Regions from separate parts of the Homo sapiens genome. Here region 1 is linked to region 2. The links come from fine-mapping of genetic effects on gene expression. A gene starts in region 2. The other region holds a variant in brackets. All regions are shown on one strand. Distances are from middle to middle. Region 1 has its middle 5.8 kb from the start of DPEP2. Region 2 holds the start of SLC7A6 (solute carrier family 7 member 6).

Region 1 (2,899 bases), 260 kb after region 2:
CAGGCTGGTCTCCAACTCCTGACCTCAGGTGATCCACCCACCTCAAGCTTCCAAAGTGCTGTGATTTCAGGCAAGAGCCACGTGCCCAGCCTAAAAAGAGCCCTTACCTTTTAGAGAGGCATACTTAAAAATGGATGAAATAGATGTCTATGATTTGCTTTAAAATAATCTGTAGAAAGAGGTGAGTGAGAGCATAAATGAAATAAGATGAGCCATCAGTTGGTAATCTTTGAAACTGGGTGATGGCTACATGGGAGTTAATACACTTTTCTCTCTCCTTTCTCATGTATTTGCAATTTTTCCTATAAAAAGTTTTTTGGTCTGGGCACAGTGGCTCATGCCTGTAATCCCAACACTGTGGGAGGCTAAGGTGGGAGGATCACTTGAGACCAGGGGTTTGAGACCAGCCTGGCAACATGGTGAAATCCCATCTCTACCAAAAAAAAAAAAAAAATTAGCTGGGTGTGGTGGCACCACCCTGTAGTCCCTGCTACTCGGGAAGCTGAGGTGAGAGGATCACCTGAGCCCCGAATTTGAGGCTACAGTGAGCCATGACGGCACCACTGCACTCCAGCCTAGGCCACAGAGGGAGATACAGTTTCAAAAAAAAAGTTTTGTGTTGTTGTTTTTAACTAAGCTTCTCAGATTCACCCAGATGCGGAGTCAGTGAGATCTCACATGGTCAGCTTCACAGGAGGGCAGGCTTTCTGCATAAAAACAGGAAGCTTAGAGAGCTCCGGGGCAGGGTGTGCTGTGACTTCACTGTGTTTTTGCAGAAACAGGTCTGATAGCCCTCGGAGATCAGCAGACAAGGTTAAGCAAGAGACAGCAAGTCTGAATTTGAGGTTAAATGTGAAATCACACATGTTGTCTAGATGTTTGGTCAGCACTGGCTCCTGGATCTTGGGGGCCTCTACAGAGCCCACCCTCCACCCCCATGTGCTTATGCCAGCACATGTGATAGCTGGAGACTTATCCAGCCACCTCACTGCACACCCCAGCAAATGGCCAGCACCAGTGGGTGATCAGGAAATGATGCCCGGACAAACTGATAGATGTAAGGAATTTGAGGCTGGGCACAGTGGCTCACGCCTGTAATCCTAGCACTCTGGGAGACTGAGGTGGGCAGATCCCTTGAGGTCATGAGTTTGAGACCAGCCTGGCCAACATGGAGAAACCCCTGTCTCTACTAAAAATAAAAAAATTAGCCAGGCATGGTGGCGTGCGCCTGTAATCCCAGGAAGCTGAGGTAAGGAATTTGAGGCCTTTCCTAGAGGCAGCAGCTGGAAGTGGAGGGATTGAAGGAACCCCTCATCTGACCAGCTGCTCAATTTTCT[T/C]ACCCACACGATAAGGCTGGTTCCTTAACTACACGGCCACGTGAAAAAAACAAAAAACAGGGCCAGGCACAGCGGCTCATGCCTATATTCCAGTACTTTGGGAGGCTGATGTGGGAGGATCACTTGAGGCCCGGAGTTCGAGACCAGCCTGGACAACATGACAAAACCCCATCGCTACTAAAAATGTGAATATTTAGCTGGGAGTGGTGGTGGGTGCCTGTATTCCTGGTTACTCTGGAGGATGAGGTATGAGAATCCCTTGAACCCTGGAGGCAGAAGTTGCAGCGAGCCGAGATTGCGCCACTGCACTCCAGCCTGAGCAACAGAGCAAGACTTCATCTCAAAAAAAAAAGAAAAAGAAAAAAAACACAATTTTGGGTCCAGGCCCTCTGGGAAGATGACTGCAGTACAAGGGGCCAAGGTTAAAGTGGATGGTGGTGAGTCAAAACTGAGCAAGAACAAGCCGAAGAGATACCTGAAAGCCGAGAAGAAAGTGGCAGAGAAGGCAGCCAAGCAGTAAGAGCTCAGTGAGAAACAGCTAAGCCCAGGTCACTGCTGCTGCCACCAACCATACCACTGACAATGGTGTGGGTCCTGAGGAGGAGAGCCTGGACCCAAATCAGTACTACAAGATCCACAGCCAAGGCCAGGCCCGGTGGTTCACTCCTGTAATCCTAGCACTTTGGGAGGCTGAGGCAGGCAGATCACTTGAAGTCAGGGGTTCGAGGCCAGCCTGGCCAACATGATGAAACCCCATCTCTACTAAAAATACAAAAATTAGCTGGGCATGGTGGCACATGCCTGTAATTCCAGCTACTTGGGAGGCTGAGGTAGGAGAATCGCTTGAATCTGGGAGGTGGAGGTTGCAGTGAGCTGAGATTGAGCCACTGCACTCCAGCCTGGGCAACAGAGCGAGACTCTGTCTCAAAAAAAAAAAAAAAAAAAAAGATTTGCAGTCAGGTAGGTCAATGGGAAAGACCCATACCCCAACGAGATCCATGTAGACATCTCCCTCACTGACTTCATCCCAGAATATTGTCACCTGCAAACTGGGGATCTCCTGACTGATATCACCTTAAACGTGACAGATAGGATCCATGCCAAAAAAGCTTTTGGAGGAAAGCTGAACTTCTATGATCTTTTTTTTTTTTTTTTTGAGATGGAATTTCACTATTGTTGCCCAGGCTGGAATGCAATGGCACAATCTCAGCTCACTGCAACCTCCTCCTCCCTAGGTTTAAGCAATTCTCCTGCCTCAGCCTCCCTAGTAGCTGGGATTACAGGCGTGCGCCACCACGCCCGGCTAATTTTGTATTTTTAGTAGAGGTGAGGTTTCTCCATGTTGGTCAGGCTGATCTCGAACTCCCAACCTCAGGTGATCTGCCTGCCTGCCTTGGCCTCCCAAAGTGCTGGGATTATAGGCGTGAGACACAGTGCCCAGCCATGAACTTCTATGATCTTTGAGCAGAGGGGGTCAAGTTGCAAGTCATGGCCAATTTCAGGAATTATAATTTCAGGAAGAATAATTTATTCATATTAATAACAAACTGCGTTGGGGAAAC
Region 2 (2,899 bases):
CACCACACCTGGCTCAATTTTTGTATTTTTAGTAGAGACGGGATTTCACCATGTTAGCCAGGATGGTCTCGATCTCCTGACCCCGTGATCCGCCTGCCTCGGCCTCCCAAAGTGCTGGGATTACAGGACTGAGCCACCGCGCCCGGCCTGCATAACTTTTTTAGAAACTAATATACATCCAAGAAATTACAGCAGGAAGCACAAAGGTCAGGAAATTTCTTCTACTAAGAAGTTCCAGGGAGATGGGGATCATAAAACCGGTATATGCAATAAAAATACATCCACGGCCAAATAGGGAAGGAGGACAAGGAGAGGAAGAGAGGAGAAAATCAGGCTGGTGGTTTTCCACACACTTGCCAGGAAAATAAACTCCAGTGTAACGACTTGAATAACGATCTGAGATCAAAGTTGGGAAGCAAAAGCCGTCTGCGCAGCACACATGGGACCTGAGTAATGCAGGCAGCCTGGGCAGGTCCCCAAAAGGCCTCACCGCCACCAAAAAGAGGTGGAACTGATATAAGGAAGTACTCACAGCCTTTCAAGTCTGCTCCTCCCAGATCTGAAATCTGGGAGCAGTTCTGAGAGACAAGCCCCGGATGGCTGGGCACTGAACAGCCGCCCTGCGAGATGAGCTGCCCTGGCTTTTTCCCCTATCAAGGGCAGAGACTGAATTCTTTTTAACTGTGTCACCAAGCCCAGGGCATACAAGAGGTACTCAAAAACGTGTTCGCCGACACCCTGATTCCTATTTATACTGACCATTACACAACATGTTTGCTTAGAGCCCAGCAAAGAATTTTCAGAATGTTTCACGTCTATCTCCCCACATTCAGGAGAGATAGTCACACAAGATGACAGGCTATAGGGACGCTCAAAAGAGCCATAATCACCAGGGGCACGCGGGTTCCCCAGCGCCAGCAGCCCAACGCTCCAGGCTCCAGCACGCCACAAAACCTTGCGGCATTCTCTAAAGTAAAAGGACTGATTTTAAAATGATAATCGTCATTCTTGCGACAGCCCCAGGAAGCCTGGCTCCTGAGGTCCTGAGCCCGCGTCTTTCTTTGCCCCACCGCGGCCGCCACACAGCACAGGTTCTCCGTCCTGCAGTCGGAGGCGCAGTCACAGCCCCACTCAGGGTCACCGTCGCACAGTCTCACGCTCGCGGCGCGGCCCGCGCACTCAGCGTCCCGGTCACCCTCGCACCTGGGGTTTCCCTCTCCACACACACCCCCGGTCTCCCTCACACTCGCCGCGTCGCCAGCACACCCCAAGACTGGCTCCCTCGCGGTCACCATCAGCCTCCGGGGCTCGCACCCATACAGCGTTTCTCCCACACTCGGCCCTCACGCTCGAGGTCCCTCTCTCCTCGTGGCGCCCCCCCTCACCCGCAGCGCCTCTCGCGCGGCCCCGATCGGCCAGCCCCGCGCTGTTTCTGGGCCGCATCCCGCTCCCGACGGCGGCAGCGAAGACCCACAGGGTTCGGCTCCCACAGAACGCGGCCCAGCCCCGGCCCCGCTCCCGGCGCGCCCGCCCATGGCCCAGCCCGTTACCTCCCAGTGGCCCGGCGCCGCCAGGATGCTCGGTCGCGCCGCCGCCGCCGCGGCAGCTCAGGCCCCGCCCCGCCACGTCACCCGCCGCCGGATCGCGACAGCGCGCGCCGCGTCGGGACACAGTTCCGTGCGGGGCCAGCTGGCGGCGGCGCTTCCGGGCCCCCGTGGCCGCCACGGCCTGGCCGGTACGGGGTCCGCCGGCCCAGAACGTGAGCGTGGACGCCAGACAGCCCCCAGCTGCCTCGTCAGGGCTCGAGCAGCCCGTGAACTGGGCCCGGCCACGCTCGCCGCCCTGGAGTTAGATGGGGCCTCCGAGGGCGTCCACAGCGGACATTCCCGCGGGGAGCTCTCATCGGCCCCCGCACCCCGTTCCTATCTCGCACTTGACCTGGGCCCGACGCCCAGGGCGCCCCCTACAGCTCACACAGGGATCCAAACGGCCTCCGCCGCCGGGCCACTGCCACTCGCAGTCTAGGAACCCCAGGAAGACACACACTCTGGGGACTTGTCCAAACACACGCACAGCTCAGACTCGTAGCCCTTGAGGCCCCCGCACCCACAAAGAAACTGCAGGCTCCCTTTGCCAACCCCAGGCCTCCCTGGGGCTCTGTCCTCATCTTCCCAAGAGGGCTGCCACCCCTCTTGGGGGAGCTGCACCTCCTGCCCCCCCTCTTGGGGGAGCTGCACCTCCTGCCCCCTTCCCCTCCCTCTGTTTGCTCCTCCATCTTTCTCTCGAGTTCCTTTTCCTCTGGTGGCTCTGGGGCTCTCTGTCTAGAGCCTCCTGACCTCATGGGCGCCTGAGCCCTCCTCCGAAATTTCCTGTCCACACCTCAAGCACTGACTTTCTCCAGGGCCCTGGAATCTTTTCCCCCAGCCTTATGACCACAAGTACACGTCCTCTGGTTCCAGACCATACCCAAGACCCTGCTCCCTGCCACCCAGTGACAGGGACCCAGCCAGAGATGGGTAGCACCTCAGACCCTTCCTCCCCACTCCTCCCACGGCCTATACCTCGTTTTCTTCTCCCCAGCCACAACGGCTTCTCAATCCCTATCCTGCTCCCCTTACCCCATCTCCACAGAGTAGGGGATGCTCCTAGAATACAGATTGCGATGACTTTGTATCTCCCCTGCCTAAAACCCTTCCATTCTCCTCTCTGCAGGCCTGGGATGACAATACTTGAGGAATCCTCGCTGGTGCTGCCCTCCTGCCCTCTGCTTGGAACCCCTCCCCTAAGTGTCAGTGAGTGGACGTATATATTTGGATCAATCGAGTTGCACCCTTTGCCTCCCAGATCAGTTCCTCCGGCCTCCCTGGCTGAGCAGAAGGACAGCTCTGGACACTTGTGT

What was found.
Region 1: its variant is fine-mapped to the expression of SLC7A6 in whole blood (TOPMed, PIP 0.95).

The regions. Positions count from the first base shown.
Region 1 is chr16:68,003,845-68,006,743 of GRCh38, reverse strand. It overlaps the pseudogene KARS1P3. Among named protein-coding and RNA genes, the nearest start is that of DPEP2, 5.8 kb to the right of the region's middle. RefSeq lists an enhancer at 1-158. The variant T/C (reference allele first, on the strand shown) is at 1,338.
Region 2 is chr16:68,263,228-68,266,126 of GRCh38, reverse strand. It overlaps SLC7A6 (solute carrier family 7 member 6), which reads right to left and starts at 1,601. Exons shown (of 11, transcript NM_003983.6): 1 at 1,551-1,601. It overlaps LOC124903704 (a long non-coding RNA gene), which reads left to right and starts at 1,670. Exons shown (of 3, transcript XR_007065096.1): 1 at 1,670-1,759; 2 at 2,713-2,899. RefSeq lists an enhancer at 1-1,063 and a silencer at 1,436-1,715.